Homo sapiens: one gene and its partners. The protein of the gene in region 1 interacts with the protein of each later gene in a pairwise test. Each region holds a gene or a part of one and is shown in the gene's direction. Other genes may lie near its edges. The genes, in order: PRPS1, CRLF3, TASOR2, KLHL20, STAM2, MLC1 and FEZ2.

Region 1 (3,500 bases):
AAATCAGTCCAACACTTAGTGGCATAAAGCAGTATTTACAAACTCACTGAGTCTGCATGTTGACTGGGCAGTTCTTAATGGTTTTGTCTGAACTTAGCCATTCTTTACAAGGGCTCACTTATGTTCCTATGTTCAGTTGTGGGTTGACTGAGGGCTGGCTTTGCTGATCTTGGCTGGGCTCTCTCACATAGCCCAGATTCAAGGAGGCTTTTATAATCTACCACACTGGGCCTGCCTTCCCATCAGTTTGAATGTTGCAGTAAGACATTCTCTGAGCAAGTTACTACTTTGTGTTTGCCATTTATAAATGGAAGAGAAGGAAAGTGAAGCAAAACTGATCCAGCTTCTTTCTACAGGGCTTTTTTGATATCCCAGTAGACAATTTGTATGCAGAGCCGGCTGTCCTAAAGTGGATAAGGGAGAATATCTCTGAGTGGAGGAACTGCACTATTGTCTCACCTGATGCTGGTGGAGCTAAGAGGTATGGTTGAAATTAGTATTGTTCCCAATGTACTGGGAAAATCTTTCAGATGGTTGTGTCACAAAGTGAAGTTTTTCTATCCAAGTGGCAGTTTTTAAGTATTTTTGAATGGATGTAAGTAGCTAGCACATGGGTTGAATATAGTTTTACCCTTTCCTCTTTTACTGTCCTCAGTTACTACTCGGAAGACAAGACAGAAAAGGGGTCCTAAATCATCATATTATGGATTTGACTATAACTTATGAGTAACTTGGTGCTACAGAGCTAGCAATACAGCTATAAACCTTTTGGGAAGGGTAGAAAATGTGGTTTTCTAATGAATAGCAGCTGCTATTGAACCACATATTGGTGGACAAATTCGCTTTTACACTCCTCTTACAATGCTGTTGGTTAGATCATTTTGATCCTTGGGATTAAAATATTAAGCAGGAAGGAAAGTAAAGTGTGACATTTTTATTTAAAGCCAAGATCTTAACATTTTAAACAAACTGATTGCCAGGGATTGCCAGTTAACAGTGCTTTGCAGCTCACATGGTGCAGACTAAGAGCTCTTGATTTCCTTAGTGGATTACTCGTTAGTAATGCATTCAAAAGTGTGACACATGTTCTTCTTGTTGTGGAAATAGAATGAAGAGCTACAAAACACAGATGATTAGGAAGAGCTAATTCAGAACTTTCTAAAAGCCATTCAAATCTTCAATGACTGTTTCTCAACAACCTCTTTTATTTCAGTAACTTCAACAGAACTGATAAGCTGAGAACTTGAGTTATGTTATCCAGCCAGATATATGGGTTGGTGAGTCCCATGTAATTGCTAGTTACCATCTGTAATGCTAGAGACAGCCTAAGAAACATCCCCCCAACTAGTAGTTGTCATATTTAATTTGTCGGTCATTATTTTAATATCTTTCTGTGGGACTTAGAAAATAGTCACATTTGAAATAGGCAGGATTTTCTTTCCAAAGGTGGGTATAGGAAAACTGCCTTTAGTAGACAACTTATTGCTACCTGATTTTTTTTTCATTATCATTGTCTTATAGTGATGGAGTATTTTACAATTGAGTGTCTATCACTTCTGTGTTGGCAGGGTTTGGGGAGTAGGTAGAGATCCCTGTGTGATATTCATTTGTACAGTAGTTCTCTCCTCAAAAGGTGTAGAGAGTTACTTTTTCTAGCCCTTTTTATGCTTTGTTGGTCACTGAATTTGTTGGCCTTTGAGTATGGTTGGTTTGGGATACTTGAACTAATTGATCATGCATTTGCCTTGGGTAAGTAATCATTCCAAGCGAATTGGTTACCACTGATGTTATGTGCTTATGCAGTAGTAGTAATGGAGAGTACAGGGTATGGTTGGTTTAGATCAAGGTACAAATGTTACCTAGATTATGGTTCAAACCTTATTATGTGGTCACAGGTTCTCACTTATCCAGCAAAAACTCATGTGACCATAGTCACAAGAGAAACAGGACAAAATGCTATAGTTTGTTCAGTTCTACATTAAAAAACAGGACAAATCCCCAAGCACGGGCTGCTTCACACATGACGGAGATGGCACAGCGGAGCATGGACAGACGTGCCACTGGGGCAGCTCACTGTCATTTACACTGAATAGATTTTTGTTTGAATTATGTGGTACTTTGTCAAAAGACAAATTTGTCTTCTATCCTACCTTCTAGTCTGGTTTATTTTCTCTTGTAATAAGAAAAATAAGAATTCTCTTTGATTGGAAGATACTTTGGACCGAATGGTGAGATGCCTAGCTTGTCTGGGTAATTGATATAACTTTCTGTCTAGCAATTGTGAAAAAAACTCCCAAGCTTGGTGTCCAGGTACAGTTGACAGTGACAGTTGATGGATGTTTTGCCAACAGCACTGAGGGAAGTGATGAGGACACAGGCATTGGAACAGGCTGGATGCTGCTCCTCTCCTGCCAGTCAGGTTCTCTTCTCACCACATCCCCATTCACGGGTCTTCCATGATGGGAATTGGGACAGTCTGTGTACTCCTGGCATTAGTTAATTCTTTCCTCATTCCTTCTGCTGCCAATCCATTAAATAAACTTGCGTGTCTTAGCGTTATACTGCTTCCCAGTACTGGTGAGGGTGTCTGTCCTCTACCCAGAATGAATACTCATCTAAGTTTGATCAGTACGTTCATAAGCTTCTGTTGAGCTATGGAGGCACTGGTTTATAAAACCCAGTTTGTGATATTTGCCTTTGAGAAGTCAATGATAGTTGCTTTCATTCTTCCAGCCCTGGGAACTATTGGTTTCAAGGAGTATTCTCCTCCCCAAAACAAGCCCATTCTTTAGTCCATTTCTTTTTTTCTTTTTTTTTTGTTTTGAGACAGAGTCTCGCTCTGTCACCCAGGCTGGAGTGCAGTGGCGCGATCTCAGCTCACTGCAAGCTCCAGCTCCTGGGTTCACGCCATTTTCCTGCCTCAGCCTCCCGAGTAGCTGGGACTACAGGCGCCCGCCACCATGCCCAGCTAATTTTTTGTATTTTTAGTAAAGATGGGGTTTCACTGTGTTAGCCAGGATGGTCTCTATCTCCTGACCTTGTGATCCGCCCACCTCAGCCTCCCAAAGTGCTGGGATTACAGGCGTGAGCCACCGCCCCCGGCCTCTTTAGTCCATTTCTTTTGTCTTAGAAGCCACACATACATATGAACACGCTCTGTTTTGCAGAGTGACCTCCATTGCAGACAGGCTGAATGTGGACTTTGCCTTGATTCACAAAGAACGGAAGAAGGCCAATGAAGTGGACCGCATGGTGCTTGTGGGAGATGTGAAGGATCGGGTGGCCATCCTTGTGGATGACATGGCTGACACTTGTGGCACAATCTGCCATGCAGCTGACAAGTAAGTGTGGATTGATGGGGCTGGTAGTTAGAAGGAAAAAGCTAGCAATTGCTGTCTGAATGTCTTCAGCCTGCTGATTCCTTTTGGAACCAAATTGAGGGGATAAGTAACTTTGTGAGATTTTTATCACCCAAGGCTTAAATTATAATACATAGAAAT
Region 2 (3,500 bases), on another chromosome or scaffold:
CAGTATGTAGCCCCTTGTGACTGACTTCTTTGACTTAGAATAATGTTTCAAGGTTCATTGATGTGGTAGCATGTAACAGTACTTCAAACCTTTTTATGGCTGAATAATTGTTATGTGGATATACCACATTTTATTTATCCATTCATCAATTAATGGACATTTGGATTATTTCCACTTTTGACTATTATGAATAATGCTTCTGTAAAGAATTTGTAGACAACTTTTTGTGTGGACATGTTTTCAGTTGTTTTAGAATATAGCTAGGAATTGGTGGATCACATGGTAACTTTTTGTTTAACCTTTTCAGAAACTCTTGGCATACTTTTTTTCCTTTTTTCTTTTTTTTTTTTTTTGAGAAAGGACCTCACTCTGTCACCCAGGCTGGAGTGCAGTGGCACAATCTCAGCTCACTGCAAGCTCTGCCTCTCAGGCTCAAGTGATCCTCCCATCTCAGTGTGCCGAGTAGCTGGGACTACAGGCACGTGCCATCACCCCTGGCTAATTTTTTGTATTTTTGGTAGAGATGGGGTTTTGCCATGTTGTCCAGCCTCCTGGGCTCAGATGAACACCCACTTTGGCCTCCCAAAGTGTTAGGATTACAGGCTTGAGCCACCGCACCCAGCCTCTTTTTTTTTTTTGAGCCAGAGTCTTGCTCTGTCACCCAAGCTGGAGTGCAGTGGCATGATCAGAACTCACTGCAGCCTCGACTTCCTAGGCTCAAGCCATCCTCCTGTCTCAGATCCCCAAGTAGCTGGGGCTATAGGTACACACCACCACACCTGCCTAATTTTGTTTAATTTTTTTTAGTAGAGATGATGTCTTCCTGTGTTTCCCAGACAGTTTCTTCCTTTTTTTTTTTTTTTTTTTTTGAGAGAGTCTCGCTCTTTTGCCCAGGCTGGAGTGAAGTGGCACAATCTTGGCTCATTGCAACCTTCAGCTCACTGCAACCTTAGGCTCACTGCAACCTCCGCCTCTTGGGTTCAAGAGATTCTCCTGCCTCAGCCTCCCGAATAGCCAGGATTACAGGCGTCTGCCACCATGCCCATCTACTTTTTGTATTTTTACTAGAGACAGGGTTTCACCATGTTGGCCAGGCTGGCCTCGAAGTCCTCACCTCAGGTGATCCTGCCCACCTCAGCCTCCCAAAATGCTGGGATTACCACCGTGCCTGGGTGAGCCACCGTGCCCAGCTGCCAGGCCGATTTCTAACTCCTGAGCTCAAGCAATCCTCTTGCCTCGGCCTCCCAAAGTACTGGTATTACAGGTGTGAGCCACTGCATCTGGCCTACCTTTTGTCTTTGCTTTAGTTTCTTATCCTTTAAACTCTAGCATGAAATTTGTCTCGTATTGAGAAATCATGTTGTATGAACATTTAGAAGGAAGAAGAATAAAAATGTTTTTAAGTTATTCTGTCAAAACTGCCAACATGTAGCAGTTTCTCCTCTTGTGGTTAAGTTTGGGCTCTACCCTCTGTTTTCAGAGAAAAGGAAGTTCTGTGTAGGAATGCAAGGATTGTCTGTTAACTCTTAATGTTTGAATAAGTTAAAGGCTAGAAAGCTGTTCATTGTCTTCAGGAAATCAGATAATGTTTACAGCCAACTTGGCCTAGCTGATGTTGAAATCATTAAGAATAGTTCTCTATAGCTCACTGGAATCCTTGGTACTAAGATGTAAATACCAAAGAAATTAACTCCCACTGTCCTTAAATATTCATTTGTTCATTCACTCAATAAATATTTATTGGGTGCCTACTGTAGGGCTGAGAAACTTCTAGGTCCTAGATTCTGTGTTCAAGGAAATAGATCACTGCCCTCATGGATTTATGCTTTCCTCTTTCCTTTGGTGGCTGATACTTAGGTTACTACCCCTAAAAACAAAACAAGTAAGAAAAATATAAGTTCTATTTGTGTATTCATTTTTATATTTCACTTCTATTATATCTTTCATCACTTGTCCTATTTCTACAGCATTGGCCTTTCTGTTTGTTATAAGTAGAGATCCAGCCTGGCCAATATGGTGAAACCCCGTCTCTACTAAAAAAATACAAATTAGCCAGGTGTGGTAGCGTGCACCTGTAGTCCCAGCTACTCAGGAGGCTGAGCCAGGAGAATTGCTTGAGCCGGGCAGGCGGAGGTTGCAGTGAGCCAAGATCACACCACTGCACTCCAGCCTGGGCGACAGAGCGAGACTCCATCTCAAAAACAAAAACGTAAGTAGAGATAACTGATCAAAATGTCACGTAGTGATGTCAGCTGGCCACTCAGGCCTCACAGAGTGGCACCACCTTGATGACAATGCCAAAGTCAGGGCCTGGTCTTTAATCTTTGTAAGTCCAAAAACTTCATCTTGGTACATTATCAAAGGGGAATTAGTTGAGGTACTGGAGGTGTCTACAGTGAGAAATGCCAGTATTTTAGTCTGTGTGTTGTAGTTCACTCTATAAAATGACTATGTTGGCTTTCATGTACCTTTTGGTATTCTGATTCAGTATTTCTCAGGACACTGACAAAAGCAAGTCTCTGCTCCTTCAAGAGCAAATGGTAAGATCCTGGTACCTAATTAAGATACTAGTTGGTGGCTGGGCTCAGTGGCTCACGCCTGTAATCCCAGCACTTTGGGAGGCCGAGGCGGGTGGATCACATGAGATCAGGAGTTTGAGACCAGCCTTCAACATGGCAAAACTCTGTCTCTACTAAAAATGTAAAAAAAATTAGCCAGGTGTGGTGGAATGCACCTGTAATTCCAGCTACTCTGGAGGCTGAGGCAGGAGAATTGCTTATACCTGGGAGATGGAGGTTGCAGTGAGCCAAGATGGCACCACTGCACTCCAGCCTCAGCAACAGAAGAAGACTGTCTCAAAAAAAAAAAAACACTCAAAAGTTATTTCAAAAAACCAAGACAGGAAGTCTCAGTAGCTTAGCAAAGAAAAGAAAGCTGTTGGCCAGGCGTGGTGGCTCACACCTGTAATCCCAGCATTTTGGGAGGCTGAGGCGGGCGGATCACCTGAGGTCAGGAGTTTGAGACAAGCCTGACCCATACGATGAAAACCTATCTTTACTAAAAATACAAAAATTAGCCGGGTGTGGTGGTGGGCGCCTGTAATCTTAGCTACTCGGGAGGCTGAGGCAAGAGAATTGCTTGAACCCAGGAGACGGAGGTTGCGGTGAGCCGAGATCATGCCACTGCACTCCAGCCTGGGCAACAGGAGTGAAACTGTCTCAAAAAAAAAAAAAAAAGGAAAAGAAAAGAAAGCCATTATTGCTCCTTTTATCTCCCACTTCCCCTTCTGTTACCCATTTTGAAAACACTACAAAAATCTGTGTATAATTTGTTACAGTAGTAGTATTTAAAGTGTCCCTATTATAGTATTCTAAGAAAAGGTTAAATCCAGATACAGGGAAAACCAAGAACAGATGAAATAATTTTTTTTTTTTAATGAAGTTTCGCTCTTGTCGCCCAGGCTGGAGTGCAATGGCTCAATCTTGGCTCACTGCAACCTC
Region 3 (3,500 bases), on another chromosome or scaffold:
TGTACTTACGTAGGCTTTTGTTTTTTTGTCATCTTGTTGAATGCTGTGCCTGTACTTGAAAGGCACACGTGTGCTATCGCACTCCCTCCACCAGTTGGCACACTGGAATGTGAAGAAGAGGATTCTAGCATGATAGGCACTAGAAACCAAAAGCATGTTGCTGCTAGTCATGTGTTGAGTTGAGCACTCTTTCTGAATTGTCAGACTTTATTTTAGAAGCATTACACTTTACCTGTAGTAAAAATATATCGAAATAGAAATATATCAAGATTGTCACTATTTGCATTTCACTAAGACTACAGTCATGGTGAGATTTAGGACTGAGGCTAAACGTTACCAGCCACATGATTGGGAGGGCCATTAAAGTTCTCAGAAGGACACTGACTCTCAAGACTTTTCTAATACTTTGTTCTCTTAAAACTCTGTTGTCTCAGCCCCACACTGTTGACTCTGTTTTTTTGTTTTGTTTTGTTTTGTTTTGTTTTGAGAAGTCTCACTCTTGTCTCCCAGGCTGGAGTACAATGGCACGATCTCGGCTCACTGCAAGCTTCACCTCCCTGGTTCAACTGATTCTCCTGCCTCAGCCTCCCTAGTAGCTGGGATTATAGGCGCCTGCCACCACACCTGGCTGATTTTTGTATTTTTAGTAGAGACAGGGTTTCACCATGTTGGCCAAGCTGGTCTATAACTCCTAACCTTAGGCAATCCACCTGCCTCAGCCTCCCAAAGTGCTGGGGATTACAGGCGTGAGCCACTGCCCCCAGCCAGAAATGGTTGGTTGGTTTGTTTGTTTTGTTTTGTTTGAGACAGAGTCTCGTGAGCCACTGCTCCAGCCAGAAATGAGTTTGTTTGGTTTGGTTTTTTTGAGACTGCAGCCTCCGCCTCCCGGGTTCAAGTGACTCTGCCTCAGCCTCCCGAGTAGCTGGGATTACAGGTGCATGCCACCACTCCTGGGTAATTTTTGTATTTTTAGTAGAGACTAGGTTTCGCCATGTTGGCCAGGCTGGTCTCGAACTTCTGGCCTATAGTGATCCGCCCACCACAGCCTCCCAAAGTTCTGAGATTACAGGCGTGAGAAGCCGTGCCCTACCTAAGACAGAAATGTTTTTAACAAGAGATTTGGAACACAGTTCCTGATTTCCAACATGTATGCTTCAAGACATGGCACGCAGTTTGTGAGCATGGTGTTCCCAGCATTGCAGAGGGGTGTGATCAGTTGTATAATCAGTTCATTTTATTATATGCTCGACAAGGCCATGCTTGAGGCTTTAAATAAAACAAAAAACAAATACCACCCTGTTTATGAGGTTATGAGAACTGTCCTGAGATGATAGCTCTGCTAATGTTTAACCTAAATCCTGCTTGCTACTGTTTAAATCAGTGCCTTTAGTTCAGTTTATGATTGCAAACTGCATTGATAAAGTTTTCAATTGCCATGTACAATAGGTATTCAAATGAGAAAGAATCTCCAGTTTCATGCAAAGAAGATAGCTAAGGGATGAGGGGCCTTTGTTGACTAGAATCAATGTATTCTGAGTACAGGGGGTAGTAATTAATTTACTCTGTTGCCTCATGGGAAAGTTTCAGATGATGGTGTACTTATGGTCTAATTGAAAACGGATGTTAAAAATGTTATTTGCTTTTTAAAAATTATCTTTTAGGCTGGGCACAGTGGCTCACACCTGTAATCCCAGCACTTTGGGAGGCCGAGGTGGGTGGATCACTTGAGGTCAGGAGTTTGAGACCAGCCTGGCCAACGTGGCTAAACCTCATCTCTACTAAAAATACAAAAATTAGCCGGGCATGGTGGCATGTACCTGTAATCCCAGCTACTCGGGAGGCTGAGGCAGAGAGTCACTTAAACCCGGGAGGCAGAGGTTGCAGTGAGCCAAGATCACTCCACTGCACTGCAGCCTGTTCGATAAAGCAAGACGCTGTCTTGAAAAAAAAAAAATTAATCTCATTTATTAAAAACAAAATTGAATGCTTTTTCTCTAGTGCTACACTTCTGGATTAAGCGGTGCTAAGTAGCAAACAGGCTGCATTTAAAGTCTTTTAAATTGTCAGTGGTCTAGTTATTTTTCTTCCAAAAAGCTTGGAGCTCTCTTCTGTGTGTGGTTTTAAAGAAAACAAATCCCACTGGGGGGTATTTTAAGTCTGCCTTTAAAAGAGGGACTTGCTTGATTTGTACCCTGTGATATTCTTTTAGCTAGAAAATTCAGAAGAACATTCACAAACTAAAATTAATTTTTATCTTTTCTGTTCTTCACATGTACATATAATCGTATAAAAAACATTTTATATGACTGATTTTTTTTTTTTTTTACTTTGGCCGTTTCAGGTAACTGGGGAAGAAGCTAAACAAGAATCATTGGAGACTTCTAATCTTGTGCTTTCGGGTATTGGAAGTACACAAACTAATGGACCTTCTGTTCCTAGTGAAGAAGAAATTGTTCAGCCACTGGATAGCACAAGAGTGGCTTCTTACAGTGGCACTGTTACTCAAGCCACATTCACCAGGACTTACGATGGGCCTGGCAGTCAGCCAGTGATATGTCAGAGCTCTGTGTACGGCACCCTTGAAAACAAAGTGGATATTCTTGATGCAGCAGTGCAAACAAAAACAGGTACTTTACAGGACCTTATCCAACATGGCAGCCCCATAAACAATGAATGTCACCCTTCCTTGGAAAGAAAGGATGATAATATGGGGTGTGCAGTGATTAACCCGGAACCAATTACTCTCACCTTTGAAAAAAATGCACATGTACCAATACAGACAGAAGGTGTAAATACTGCTGATGAACGTACAACCTTTAAGAAGGAGTTGATTAAGCAAGTATCACCTGCTGCAAGCCTTAGACATCCTGTATCCACCTCGGAAAATGCACGAACACAAGGCCTGAGGGACATTCCCTCTCTAGTAGTTGCAGGACAGAAGGGCACTAAGTACCTTTGTGCCTCGTCAGTAGGTGGAGAGACACTTGATAAAGCAGTGTGTTCATTACAGAAGGAGACGCCCCTTCCAGTCTCTCTACCATCTGATAAAACAATGGTCATGGAGGCACTATCATTAGCTAAAAGTTCTAGTCATCTATCACCCAGTGAAGAAGTGAGATGCACTCAGGATTTCCTTTCACAGACTCAGAGTCTCCTCGGCCTATCTTCAGAAGGGCTTCTAGAACTGACACAGGTTGAAGTGGACTCATCATCAGCCTCTACCACCTTGGGAAGGCAGTGTTCACTTAACTGCATTTCGTCAGGATGCCACACATCAGGTGACTCTTTAGAACTAAGGAAGAATCACAAGAATGGTCCAAACACTGAAAATATGAATTTGGAAGCGTTTGATTCAGTATTTATCAAACAAACAAGCCTGTCTGTGAGTAGAGAGGTCAGCCTAGAGTTATCAGAGGAAGATTCTGACATTGACTTAGCTCTAACAATATCACCACCTACAAGTCCCAGAGAAGAAATGCCAGCTGGTGAAATAGAGCAAT
Region 4 (3,500 bases), on another chromosome or scaffold:
CACAGTGCTACCAATGAGATGTCAGCAGTAGTTGTTGAGGGGTATTCTAGGAAGGCTTTTGCTATCCTGATATAAAGGGAAACTAGCATGCTTGCATGAGGATTTACCCTTCCTGCTCCATCTTGGTCTCGATCACTGGACCAAGGCACCCAAGGCTTATGCTCATTTTATCCAATAAGCCGTGATGAGATGTCTTGGGACTAAAACATTCACAACCAAGTTTCAAATAAAGAGGTTAATAGCTTGGCCTTCTGGTGTGGAATCAGGTGTGGAATATAGTGCCTATTGGGACCCCTTCTACTAAGTAGAAGTGACACTTTGAGATGTTATTTCTGTTTTGAGGGTTTATACACTCAAATCTCCAGCTGTCTCTATTCAAGTATATTTAGGACTATAAATGAGGGTCAGTGCAACTGAATCTTTTTTAAGGTCAAGTTGTTAATTTTCAAAGTAAAACAAAATTTTTGAAGTAGGAAAGGTGAAATGTTCATTTAGATAGCGTATTAGTCCATTTTGCATTGCAATAAAGAAGTACCTGAGACTTGGTAATTTATAAAGAAAAGAAGTTTATCTTGGCTTGTGGTTCTGCAAGCTTTTCAAGAAGCACTTGTCACACATGTCACCACACCTGGATAATTTTTAAATTTTTTCGTAGAGATGGAATCTCATTTTGTTGCCCAAGCTGGTCTCAAACTCCTGAGCTCAAACGATCCTCCTGCCTCAACCTGCCAAAGTGCTGGGATTACAGCTGTGAGCCACCATGCCCAGCTAGCTTTTACATTCTTAAATGGTTGAGGAAAAAAGGCAAAAGATGAATGATATTTCCTGAAGTGAAAATTATATGGATGGACACCAATGGCTGGGGGCACAGTGGCCTACACTTGTGATCCCAGCACTTTGGGAGGCTGAGGCAGGAGGATCACTTGAGGCCAGGAGTTCTAGACCAGCCTGGGAAACAGAGAGAGTCTTTGTCTCTACCAAAAAATTAAAATTAAGCCAGGCGTGGTAGCATGCACCTGAGAGCCTCCTCAGGAGGCTGAGGTGAGAGGATCGCTTCAACCAGGAGTTTGAGGCTGCAGTGAGCTGTGATCATACCACTGCACTTCATCCTCAGTGACAGAGCAATACCTTATTTCTAAAAAAAAGAAAAAAAGATTCTACTATACTGATGCAGTAATAAGAGCATTATTTTTTTTTGCTATGGTAATTTTTTTTTTTTTTTTGACATAGAGTTTCGCTTTTGTTTCCCAGGCTGGAGTAGTGCAGTGGCACAATCTTGGTTCACCGCAACCTCTGCCTCCCAGGTTCAAGCAATTCTCCTGCCTCAGCCTCCCAAGTAGCTGGGATTACAGGCATGCGCCACCACATCCAGCTAATTTTTGTATTTTTAGTAGAGATGGAGCCTCACCATGTTGGCCAGGCTGGTCTCAAACTTCTGACCTCAGGTGATCCAGCCACCTCTGCCTCCCAAAGTGCTGGGATTACAGGTGTGAGCCACCGCGCCTGGCACTATGGTATGTTTAAAAGAAAAACGGAGACATTAGCTTAGTTTACCCACATTGTACTTAGGTGAAATAAAAAATTGTTTATATCTCAGTTCAACAGTAGCATCTTTATGTATGTAACTAAGGTTGTGACAATAACACTTTACTTTCAGCATGCAGTGTCAGTATTCCAGGAATTTTTGGTCTTCTGTCTTTAATTGTTACTTTTTTAAAAAAGAAGCTTGATTGTACCACTGTTAATCATGTGATTTATTCTTTCAGCATCTACTGTGTACAAGGCACCATTTTAGCTCTGTGGTTAAAAGCATTCTTGATTGTTTATATGGATGGTAAAAATTATTCTTTAACTGCTCAGCTTTATGTTTTAGTCTTTAAAATTGCCAAGCGTAAACAGTGATGTTTTTACCAGATGTATAAGTGTTTTGGAAAAATTGGTTGTTGTTGGAGAAAAGAAGAACCATGTTTTTTATTTTTGTGCTATATCTTTGCAATGCACATGCAATTTCTTCTCCCTAGAATGTCCTTATAGATTTTTCTGTCCTTCTCAGGAGACTCCTTTTACACTTTAGTGTTTTATTATACTGTAGTTCCCGTCAGTGCTACAGCTTTGGAAGTAGCAGACTGATAGGGATGCTGTCCTTTGCAGGCTAGATATTAGACTCTCTCAGTAGTTGTAGATAATTAGCATCTGAGAGAGACTCACATGAGGCTGACCTAAAACTCAGTGATCAGAATGCTTGAGTCATCCCCCTTTTAAGTAGCATGGTACTTTTGGAAGAATTTTCCATCAGAGGACTGCTTAATGAGTTTAGAATCAGAAACAGAAATATAACGATCTGGAGCATGGATGTGAGATATTTCACTTAAGCTCTGGGAAAACCCAGTGTAATATTCCTACTTTACAACAACAACCTTTGTAGTAACCTGATAGGCTATACCTGTGAGATCCAGAATCTTTCTGAATGATGTTAAACATATACTTCATAGATTTTGCCTTTCTGAATGACTTTTAAGCTTTATTGAGGTATAATTGAGGTACATATTTTATGTATACATTTTGATGAGTTTGGGCATATGTATATACCCATGATATCACCGCAATCAAGGTTCTAAACATATGTATCACCTCCAAAAATTCTTTTATATATATATACACATACACATACATGATATATATGTTTTGGGGATTTTTTTTTTTTTTTTTAGAGATGGGGCCTCACTATGTTGCCTAGGCATGGCAAACTCCTGGGCTTAAGGGATCCCCCCGCCTCAACCTCCCAAAGTACTGGGATTACAGGCATGAGCCACTAGGCTCAGCCTCCTCCGAAAATTCTTATGTTTGAACCACATCTTTTGTCCTGGTTGCCCTCTTACTAGTTATTCATGTATCTCCTCCTCTAGAGATTGCTTCTTTATATTACTTAGAATTTTCCACAGTCTATAGCAAAATGCTTTGTGTACATTAAAAGCAATTAGTAAATATTTGTTAAAAGAATAATTATTTTAATTAAGAGGCATAGATTGTCTTTTCTCTGCATGTTTATATAATGTGATCATACAAAAATCCAAATATCTTATTTCTAATTATTTGTCAGTAATTTGTGACTTTTACCTAGTAATTTAGCACCTGAATTTCTACATATGAAATATGAATATAAGATACAAATTTTCAAGCCAGGCATGGTGACTCACACCTGTAGTCCCAGCTACTTAGGGGGCTGAGGTGGGAGGATCAGTTGAGCCTAGGAGGTCGAGGCTGTAGTAAGCCGTGATCAAACCGCTGTATTCCAGCCTGGGTGACAGAGCAAGACCCTGTCGCAAAGAAAAGATACAAATTTGTATCTTATATATTATCTGGAATGACTTTTTAAACATAATAAAAGTATTTTAGGTATTTTATAAGTACTTAAAGGTAATTCTGAAAATTTCTTAGACCATCCCCGTTAATTTCAGCTAGAAAAGTGATGATATAAGTTCACTTTGTTATGCTCATTC
Region 5 (3,500 bases), on another chromosome or scaffold:
AATCATAAGGTTCCACATGTTGCTCTGCAAGCACTAACTGTGAGTACAAGGCATGTTATTATTTGACGCAAATTTTAAATGTGTTTTTAATTACAGTAAGTTAATATTTCAATATTCATATATTTTTATTTCAATTAATAGCTTCTTGGGGCTTGTGTGGCAAACTGTGGAAAGATATTTCATTTAGAAGTATGTTCCCGTGATTTTGCAACAGAAGTACGTGCTGTGATTAAAAATAAGGTAAATTTTAAAAACAGAAGAACTTTAAGTCATTAAAAAAATGTAGATTGTGTGTCATTATAACTATATGTGGCATTACTAAAGTATTATAAATGAAGTCATTTTTAGATCATTGAAATGAAATAAACTGTTCTGAAATTTGATTTTTTAATGTGTAGCACCAAAAACTATTCTCCCCAAAGTATATATACTGTAAATAATAGCAAATCCTTTTTGAGGGCTAGTAAGTAGTCATTACTTTAAGCATTTTACATATACTGTCTTGTTGAATGCTCTTAACTACCCTTGGAGCATTAGATTCTTGGAAGTTAGATTCCCTTATCATTCTTATTTTATAAATGCAAAAACTGAGACTTAGAAGTAACTTGTCCAAGGTCATGCAGCTGGTAACTGGAATAGCCATGATTTACATCCAGGTTTCTCTGGCTCCATTCTCCGAAACATGGAGGAAATAATCTCTGAATATAAAAGATCTGTTGTCATTATAGTAAGACTTAGGAATTGGTGTTAAAAACAGTCATTTTGTATGAAACAACTATATCACAACATGTAAATAGGCATCTATCAATTACTCAACTAGGCTAGAAATTTCAGGACTTTTGTTGATGTTCATATAATTAAAGAGAATTTTGATGGTAATTCTCCTTGTTAAATAATTTAAGTACTTATTTTAACCGTAGATTTTTGTTTATTTTCCTTTCCTTTTCCTTAAAAGGCACATCCTAAAGTATGTGAAAAACTGAAATCTTTAATGGTGGAGTGGTCAGAAGAATTTCAGAAGGACCCTCAGTTTAGTCTGATATCTGCAACTATTAAATCTATGAAAGAAGAAGGAATTACTTTTCCTCCAGCAGGTTCTCAGGTGAGAGATTTATTCAGACCCATGGTTGACCCTATAATATTTTGAAGGTATGTATGTTATGTAAAGACTAGGCAAGGTATGTCTAGATTATCATTTTCCACCTTTACTTCCCAAATGACTCTCTAGCATAGTGCCTTCCTTACGTTTAGTAGACATTCTAGTTTTTATGTGTATTTCTTCCACATATCAGAACCTTGTGAAGTTAATCAGACATAGTGTATTTAATGTTCCTCTAAGTCTACAGTCATGCAAAAGGCATAGGTATATGACATACCCCTTATATTCAAGAAATTTGTAGCAAATTTGAATGATAGCTTTATACATGTGAAAAATAACTAATTTAGATTGTAAGTGACAAATACAGGATGAGGGGAATAGACTGCATACTGTCTATCTTAATACCAAAGAGAGAAAGAGGTGACTACAGATTGGAATGGTGAAGAAGGTAAAGAGGTAGAATTTTGAGACTTGAATGTATTAATATTTTGTTAGAGAGAAGTGAAGAAGTCATATCAGGAGGTAAGTGAAATGAACAAATTCATGGAATTGAGAGGCTCAAGACTTGTTTGTTCAAGAGTGAATATGCCTAGAGTGAATGCTTCACATACAAGATGGATGGAAATGTAAGACTAGAAATTTATTTGCTGGGAGAAGGGATAGCTTTAGTAGAACTGGGGTGTGGAGGCAGGGATGTTGACTCATGGAGTGGGCTGGTTTTTTTAGGTCTAGGGGAGAAAAATACTATTCCTTGGGTTTTGCTCTCAGTACCTTATTCCTTCCCATTAATATTAAGATATGGGCTAGGGAAAGAGACGATGAGAAGTACTATATTTTCTTTTATTTTAAATCATAGATTAAAGAGAAAAAAAGATTTTTTTTTTTTTTTTTTTGAGATGGAGTTTTGCTCTTGTTGCCCAGGCTGGAGTGCAGTGGCACAACCTCAGCTCACTGCAATCTCTGTCTCCCGGGTTTAAGCAATTCTCCTGCCTCCGCCTTTAGAGTAGCTGGGATTGCAGGTGCCTACCACCATGCCCGGCTAATTTTTTGTATTTTTAGTAGAGACGGGGTTTCACCATGTTGACCAGGCTGGTCTCAAACTTCTGACCTCAGGTGATCCACCTGCCTCGACCTCTCAAAGTGCTGGGATTACAGGCATGAGCCACCACGCTGGCCGAAAAAAGATTCTTTATAGCTGACCAGACCTAAGGGTACAAGGTAACGTTTTGAGATAAGAGTCTTATAAGTAATAAAAAGGAAACATTTTCCTGTTCTGTCCTTTCTGCATATTTTTCTGAAAAATCTATGTAAAGAACCGGTTGATGGATCAGTCCTGGATACCTGTCTTACATGCTGTTTATTAAATTCAAGCATGACCTTCCTTACTTCTCTGCTATGTCTGGCAGACCACTGCCACCCAGCCACAATAACTAGTAAAAGGACTTCACACATATTCCTAGAACTGCACCTCTTGTCTCTGTCCCCATTCCTCTCTCTTCAGTGATGATCATGACTTCTTGCTGGCACTCCTCGTGTAGCTGTACTCCTATAGCAGAGCTCCTCTCACTAAGAGACCTTGGACAATTGAGATCGGGAATACAATCAGAAAAGAGTCTTTTTTAAATTCTATTAATATTTAAGTACTTTCTGTATGCCAAGTTCTGTGTTACATTTATGCAAAATCTAAGCCAGTTTGATCCCTGTGTGAGTTTATAATGTTTTCTTGAAAAATCTGATGTTTTATTTTAGTATTTGAAAACAATTATTTAAAATTATTATAAAGAACTTCACTTTTAGACCAGTGATGGTGGCTCATGCCTGTAATCTTAGCACTTTGGTAGGCTGAGACAGGAGAATCACTTGAGGCTAAGAGTTGCAGATCAGCCCAGGAAACATAGTGAGACCCTGTCTCTACAAAAAATAAAAATTAGCCGGTTGTGGATGCATACACCTCTAGTTCCGGCTTCCCAGGAGGCTGAGGCAAGAGGATCACTTGAGCCCAGGAGTTGGAGGTTACAGTGAGCTATGACTGTGCCATGCACTGCAACCTGGCTGACAGAATGAGACCCTGTCTCAAAAAAGAACTTCACTTTTAAATGAAACTCAGTTATATCAGTATTTTTTAAAATTTACCATCTGCAAGTAATTATGGAGCTTGTGTTTTGTTTGAAAAGATAGTTGTGTTCATTTTACTCATACATTTACAGACTGTCTCAGCTGCTGCCAAGAATGGTACGTCATCGAACAAAAACAAAGAGGATGAAGACATAGCTAAAGGTAAATGATCAAGCACATGTAATTTAGTGTTGCTTAAAATATCTTTGCCAGGGCTGGGCGCGGTGGCTCACGCCTGTAATCCCAGCACTTTGGGAGGCCGAAGTGGGCAGATCATGAGGTCAAG
Region 6 (3,500 bases), on another chromosome or scaffold:
AATTCAGCTTTATTTGTGCATCTGGAGTTTTGTGCCTTCTGGACGCAAGGCCTGGCTGCCCAGGTCCCTTCCGGCCCCCAAGCCCTTGCTGGCCCACTCCTTATGCCTGGCTTTCCTGCTGGCCACAGCTCTGTGTTTGCGACTCACAGAGATCCTTCACGGGAGCAGGTTTTCGGGCGTGTGTTTCTTCCCCAGCCCTCCCTGAGTCTGGCGGTGCTGGTTGCGGCCCCTCCCTGAGTCTGGCGGTGCTGGTTGCGGCCCCTCCCTGAGTCTGGCGGTGCTGGTTGCGGCCCCTCCCTGAGTCTGGCGGTGCTGGTTGCGGCCCTGATGGTGCCGGGCAGATGAGTCCACAACCAGGGCTTAGGCCAGCAGGGTTCTTGGCTTTGTCCAGGAAAGAATTCAAGGGCGAGCTGGAGGTGACAGACAGCAGCTTTGTTTGCAGTGGCAGTATAGCAGGGCTCTCCAACCGGCAGGTGCCTCGAGCAGCAGCTCAGAGACAGCTCTGCCTCCTATTTATACCCACTTTTAAGTATATGCTAATTAAGGGGCAGATTATGCAGAAATTTCTAGAAAAGGGGTGCTAACGTCCAGGTGGTTGGATCATTGCCACGGAAAGGGGTGGTGACGTCCAGTGTTGCCGTGGCAATGGCAAACCCACATGGCACGGGTGGGTGTGTCCTATGGGAAGCTACTTCTGCCCCAGGCCTGTTTTCCCGAGTCCCTTCGATGGGGTCCAGGGTCTGAGCACCGCCGCCTGCCACACTGTGAGACAGGGAAGGGAGTCTGAGGGTCTTGGTTTTCTGCCCTCACCACTGTCAGGTCAATACCCTCAGTTTCTGTGGACAAAAGCAGCAGTGGGGGAAACACCTCTTTGGCTATTTTACTCCAGGAGGGACGTGAAAAGCCGCAGCTGAGGGCAGAGGGGGTCTGGGCCAGGTGAGGCTGGGGGTCCATCCAGGTGGGCTCCTCCACGGTTAGATCTGGGGCCAGCCCACTGGACCCTGCTCCTGGGGGTCCATGTCTGCACAGTGCATTCTGGGAATCTGGGGGTGTCTCCACTTCCTTATGAGCCGATGCTGTCCTGTCCCCTCCAGGTCGTCGAGGTAATCGCAGGCATCTCTGCCGTCCTCGGGGGGATCATTGCCCTGAACGTGGATGACTCAGTTTCAGGCCCACACCTCTCAGTGACGTTCTTTTGGATCCTAGTGGCCGTGAGTAACCCCTCTGGCCCGCCCGCCGCCGCTCTGGGCCACACTGCTCAGATCCTGCGTGGCTGGGCCCCGAGCTCAGTCTTGGTGCATTCAGACAGAGAGTCACCACAGAGGGTCCTCGCTGGCCCCCAACTTCAGAAGAACTGGGGAGTTAAGGATTAAATGAGTCAAAGTATTAACTGCTTTTATATTAGTTTGTGTGATTATTTTATATTATTTTTCCTGAAAAAAATACCAATTATTTTTATTATTCTAATCTTTTTAACATATGAATGTCAGGCTGTAGATGTTTATTATTCTATATAATTTTCTAATATATAATGCATTTATATTACACTATGTGTTTCATACAATGCAGCATATTTCTGTTATTACTTTACATTAAATGTTACTGCAGCAGATGTGTCACACAGCACCTGACACATGCCACATGCTCAATACATGGGCATTGTTTTATTTATTTTATTTATTTATTTTTTTGAGATGGAGTCTCACTCTGCCACCCAGGCTGGAGTGCAGTGGCTCAATATCACCTCACTACAACCTCTGCCCCTCCCCGGGTTCAAGTAATTTGCCCACCTCAGCCTCCCAAGTAGCTGGGATTACAGGCGTGGACCACCATGCCCAGCTAATTTTTTTGTATTTTTAGTAGAGACCGGGTTTTGCCATGTTGGCCAGGCTGGTCTTGAACTCCTGACCTCAAGTGATCTGCCTGCCTCGGCCCCCAAAAGTGCTGGGATTACAGGTGTGTTCCCTCAGAACAGTGAGTCTAGAGCAACCCCTCCACACCCCAGATCCCCTCACAGCCTGTAGCCCACCCAGAGCCACCACCCACCTGCCTCCGGACGCAGACCCCACGAGGTTCTCAGCACCTTGCCGCGTAGTGGCCTGCACACCGGTGTTGACGGCCAGCCCCTGGTTTGTCTCATGCTGTGTGGACTTTTAGATTTTGCCCCTGCTCTCTTATGTACATGAGCAGGAATGGTGAGCACCCAGCATCAGCTACAGGCTCCTCCTGGGCAGCAGTGGGGCTCTTCCTGAAGCTGCCGAGGCCCATGCCTGCCTGGGAGCAGTATGGCCAGGTGGACTGCCGAGAAGGGGCCCACGCCTGCCCGGGAATGGTATGGCCGGGTGGACTGCGGAGAAGGGGCCCACGCCTGCCCGGGAACGGTGTGGCCGGGTGGACTGCCGAGAAGGGGCCCACGCCTGCCAGGTGGACACATCCCATTGGCAGCAGCTGTGTTTCAGCTCCCTGTGGGGGCGAGTAGGCACAGAGCAATGCCCCCAGGGCACCAGTGCCCGACCTAGTGGGCTGCTGAGGCGCTCAGAGAGGGAAAGAGACCCAGGCAGGACCGAGCTGGGATAGAGCCACACCCCCGGAAGGGGTAGGACCAGGCCCAGCTACTGAGACAGAGAACTCACATGGGTGCCCACCCAAGCGGGTCTGTGACAGAGAGAATGACGCCTGCAGGTGTGTACAACTGACCCTGGGGTCTGAAACGCAGGGATTACATCCCGAAGCTGAGGGAGGACAGAGACCACATACCTCCAAAAAGTTGAGAATGAAAGGCACTTGCCCTACCCCCTTCCCTGTCCCTGCAGTCAGCCCTCATCACAGAGGCCCCTCCCATCCCGCAGACCCCTCCTGCCTCGGGGGTGGCTCTGCTCTCTCCATCTTCCCGGAGAGCACCCCCTGCCCATCAGGTGCTGCCCCCTGGGCGCCCCTAAATCCACCCACACTCCCAACCCTCTCTTCAGGGCAGGAGACCCCAGGAGGAGAGGAGAGCGCTGAGGCATGCGTGGTGAGGGACCCAGCTCCACCTGCCTGAGTCTGGCCTGGGTGCGGCAGAGGGGCCCAGGCCCTGCACCATGGGCTGGAGGCAGGTGCTCGGGGCTGGAGTTGGGGGCTGGGCTGCAGGCCTGGACCCTTCCAGGGCAGGGCCCTTGATTGAGCTGCCCCAGCCCCTATGGCTGAGCTTCCTGGCCCTCTAGGGCAGGGGCCGGAGTGGCCATGCTGGGTGAACGGGGAAACTCCCGCCCTCCCATGGCTCACTGGGGCCCTGAATAGGCCACCCTGAAGCCACCATCCCTTCCTGTGCCCTCACTGCTGCTTACAGCTAGAAGGCCCTTTCAGAAGCACCAAGCCCAGGAGAGACCCCTGTATTGACACCTCAGCCTCCCTGGCCAGGGCCACACCCACCTCAGCAGCTGGCTTGGGGCCTTTGCACTGGCAGCCCCTCAGCTCCCCAGTCTTCTCCCTGCTGCCCAGGCTCCCCTGCTCGGAGCCCA
Region 7 (3,500 bases), on another chromosome or scaffold:
CTGGGTGTGTTTTATTGTGAACTCCCTCTCTTTCTCCTTTTTGTTGTATCTGCCTTAGTGCTTAGCTTCTTTATTACAAATTAGATATTAAATCCTGTTCTCACATTGAGAGCGAATTCTTTCTCCAGAAAGGATAACAAACCTTTTGTTTGAGAGAGATTTTTCACTTTTTGAAATGGTCTGTTTGTTTGAAGTTACAGAAGAAAAATAAGTGTAATGCACAGTTGTATTTATTATTCATGTGACCCTGGAAACATTTCTTCCCCGCCCTGTGTTTCAGTTTCTTCATCTGTAAAATGAGGTTAATAATGGTTCCCCCTTCTAATGTTGTTTTTGAAGATTACATGAGTTAATACATGTAAATTGCTTAGAACAGTGCCTAGCACCTAATATAATGGAAGTGTTGCCTACTGCCTATTGGCAGTTTTCTGTACGGCTTCACCTTCCCTTAGGACTTCTTGTCAGCCCAGTTATGTGATTTTTCACCTCGTTTTTGTTTAGGAGACTCTACTTTGTTGATGTTTTTCTGAGAAACAATGTGCTGTCTGTTTTTCTCTGTTTCCTTTGACATTTGCTGTTCATCTTTCACTGAATATTTGTTTAAGAAAGACATACAGAATGTTAATTTTCATTGATTGTAGCTTTCTTCTTTTTAAGGATTTGGAATGCCCTGACAGATAATTATGGGAATGTGATGCCTGTAGACTGGAAGTCATCGCATACTAGGACCTTGCACTTGCTTACTCTGAACCTCTCAGAAAAAGGGGTAAGTTAGGAATTGAACCAATAGTGTTTGAATAACTGATGCTGATAATAGAACTAAAACAGTAGCATTTCTGCTTAACACAGATTCACTGACCTGCCTCTCATTTCTGAAATTATAGCAGTTTGGGTGGCTCTGTCTTGATGTCTTGGCTGTAGGGCCATCACCTTGCTGGCACATTCCTCCAGTTCTTCTCCAGCACACTCATTTTTTATGTGTAGCTAAATTTCCATCACAATTTTTTTTTTTTTGACGGAGTCTCACTCTGTTGCCCAGGCTGGAGTACAGTGGCTTACTACAACCTCTGCCTCCTGGGTTCAAGCGATTCTCCCACCTCAAACTCCCGAGTAGCTGGGATTACAGGCATGAGCCACCAGTCCCGGCTAATTTTTGTATTTTCAGTAGAGACAGGGTTTCGCTGTGTTGGCCAGGCTGGTCTCGAACTCCTGACCTCAGGTAATTCACCTCCCAGAGTGCTGGGATTACAGGTGTGAGCCACTGCACCTGGCAGTGATGATGCACTGAAACACTCAGTAAAATTTGGTGCACTGAAACCCTCAGTAAAAATGCTAGCCTTTGGTTTAATATACTGAGAGTATTGGAATCTCAACACGGAGTTAACTTTTTAATGAGTGTAGTGACCTGCTAGACATGATATGTTGTCAGGAGACTGTGTATTCCTGTGAATACTGGAGAACCTTTAAAAGATATTTTAGTTCTTGGCTTTTAAAATACGGTCTTGGCTAACTTACCTTTCTTGGGGTCTCCTGTGTACATCCTGGTATTGTAAAGTGAAGATGTCTTGACTAAGAAGTGTGAGCACGAGTGGTGGGACAGGTAGGGAGGCAGAAAAGGGTTGAGAATTACTTGAAATGGAAAATCACAGTGTTAAGCTTTTTTAAATCTGATGAGAAACATATCCAAATTATCTAAGTTTCAGGGCCTGGCTGTTTAAGTTCCTTATCAAATAATAATGTAAACTCATGCCAGATCTTCTTGCGTGCTCTATATTTCATTAAGTGTAATTATGTGATTATTGAGAATATAGTGCAGTAGGCCTGTCACTATTTTACATAGTATTGTTAATGTTTTGTTAAAAGGATTTTCTTACATATGTGATCAGAAAAGCCTACTGTTATTATTTTCTAGTAAAATGTAGAATTCTGGCTGTATTTCCCAGTATTCAGTAGCTATGGAAATCTTCCTGACTGTGCCAGTCATTAATCCCATTAAGCTTTGCAGACTGACCTGGCATATATTTAATGAAAAGGAATAAAATGAGGGATCTTTTGCTCTGTCTTGTTTACTTAGGTCCTGGCTATCATTTTGGGCTTAGTTCAAGTTTCCCTTCCTCTCTGAAGCTTCCTATTACTGTTTTAGCCTTTGCTGATCTCATGGAATTATACAATTTTAGAGTTGGAAGGGGCTTTAAAGGACACTTAATCCAGCCTCTCACTTGGGGGGAATCCTCACCTCCAGCATCTCTGACAGATGGTCATTTAGCCATGGCCTAAATTCCTGCACGGAAGGAAAACACACTCCCCTCTAGGGGAACTGATGGCACTTGTGGGGTTGTGAACTTTGAAAGGACTTGTTATCTGTGCCACGGGGTTTAGCCTTGCTGTCTCATGGGTGCTAGTCCCCAGATCACTTTGTCCCTGTCTCTAAAATTACCACTGCCTTCTCTTGTTAATCATATGTTTCTGGGTCTGTCACTAGATTGTGACTTCCCGGCAGGTATTTGTATTTGTCTTTATAGTAACTATACTGTTCCTGGCACATAGTAAGTTTGAAGATACCTTTTTATTGAGTGAATAAGTGAATAGCCTTGTCAGTGAAACTGTAGGGCCAGAGATCGTGATAGAAAGGTTTTAAAAAAATATTTTCTATGTTATTTAAAATAATGCAGAATGCACCAAAACCAGTCCATGGGTACTACTTTTTTGACATATTAAAAAATAGCATAGAAGAGTTTCCATTCATAGTTTCAAAGTCAGGCCCATTAGCAGCGTGAGTGAGACAGTTTAATCCAATTTCATTGACTAAATGTACAGCGGGCCCACCATATTCTCTGGTTTCACATCTGCTGCTTTAGCCAACTGTGGATTAAAAAACTTGAAAAAAAAACCCCACAATAAAATAACAACACAACAATTGAAAATAATGAAAATAAAAAACCGAAAACCGATACAATATAACTTTATAATATAAATATTGTATAGTTATATACAATATAACTATAAACCATTTACCTTGTATTAGGTATTATAAGTAATTTACATATAATTTAAAGCTTATAGGGGGATGTGCACAGGTTATATGCAAATACTACCCCACTTTATATAAGGGACTTGAGCATCTGCAGATTTTGCTATTGGGGTGTCCTGGAACAAATTTCCCTTGGATACCGAGGGACTGCTGTATGTCTTGTATTGTTCTTAGATTGCATCTTGGGAGGTTGCTCCCTTTTGCTGCCTTTTGAATGTTATTTTCAATGCCACGGTAATGATATGGCCAAGGCAGTGATTAGTAATGACGTAGAGTTTAATGCTAGTACTGACATTAAAAAGCCTTACCTGGCTGGGCGCGGTGGCTCATGCCTGTAATCCCAGCACTTTGGGAGGCTGAGGTGGATGGATCACCTAAGGTCAGGAGTTTGAGACCAGCCTTACCAACACGGTGAAACCCCGTCTCTACTAAAAATACAAAATTAGCCAGGCGTGGTGGCGCATGCCTG

The links.
Region 2: the proteins of PRPS1 (region 1) and CRLF3 interact in binary tests that used the Homo sapiens proteins (3 or more experiments, as listed by UniProt).
Region 3: the proteins of PRPS1 (region 1) and TASOR2 interact in binary tests that used the Homo sapiens proteins (3 or more experiments, as listed by UniProt).
Region 4: the proteins of PRPS1 (region 1) and KLHL20 interact in binary tests that used the Homo sapiens proteins (3 or more experiments, as listed by UniProt).
Region 5: the proteins of PRPS1 (region 1) and STAM2 interact in binary tests that used the Homo sapiens proteins (3 or more experiments, as listed by UniProt).
Region 6: the proteins of PRPS1 (region 1) and MLC1 interact in binary tests that used the Homo sapiens proteins (3 or more experiments, as listed by UniProt).
Region 7: the proteins of PRPS1 (region 1) and FEZ2 interact in binary tests that used the Homo sapiens proteins (3 or more experiments, as listed by UniProt).

Annotation. Positions count from the first base shown.
Region 1 is NC_000023.11:107,642,010-107,645,509, forward strand, and holds part of PRPS1 (ribose-phosphate pyrophosphokinase 1), read left to right. Parts: intron 1-356; coding exon 357-481; intron 482-3,167; coding exon 3,168-3,341; intron 3,342-3,500. UniProt on the Homo sapiens protein: Catalyzes the synthesis of phosphoribosylpyrophosphate (PRPP) that is essential for nucleotide synthesis.
Region 2 is NC_000017.11:30,818,193-30,821,692, reverse strand, and holds part of CRLF3 (cytokine receptor-like factor 3), read left to right. Parts: intron 1-3,500. UniProt on the Homo sapiens protein: May play a role in the negative regulation of cell cycle progression.
Region 3 is NC_000010.11:5,743,838-5,747,337, forward strand, and holds part of TASOR2 (protein TASOR 2), read left to right. Parts: intron 1-2,341; coding exon 2,342-3,500.
Region 4 is NC_000001.11:173,721,481-173,724,980, forward strand, and holds part of KLHL20 (kelch-like protein 20), read left to right. Parts: intron 1-3,500. UniProt on the Homo sapiens protein: Substrate-specific adapter of a BCR (BTB-CUL3-RBX1) E3 ubiquitin-protein ligase complex involved in interferon response and anterograde Golgi to endosome transport.
Region 5 is NC_000002.12:152,144,764-152,148,263, reverse strand, and holds part of STAM2 (signal transducing adapter molecule 2), read left to right. Parts: coding exon 1-39; intron 40-141; coding exon 142-240; intron 241-955; coding exon 956-1,102; intron 1,103-3,306; coding exon 3,307-3,376; intron 3,377-3,500.
Region 6 is NC_000022.11:50,071,927-50,075,426, reverse strand, and holds part of MLC1 (membrane protein MLC1), read left to right. Parts: intron 1-1,094; coding exon 1,095-1,211; intron 1,212-3,500. UniProt on the Homo sapiens protein: Transmembrane protein mainly expressed in brain astrocytes that may play a role in transport across the blood-brain and brain-cerebrospinal fluid barriers. Regulates the response of astrocytes to hypo-osmosis by promoting calcium influx.
Region 7 is NC_000002.12:36,588,169-36,591,668, reverse strand, and holds part of FEZ2 (fasciculation and elongation protein zeta-2), read left to right. Parts: intron 1-657; coding exon 658-766; intron 767-3,500. UniProt on the Homo sapiens protein: Involved in axonal outgrowth and fasciculation.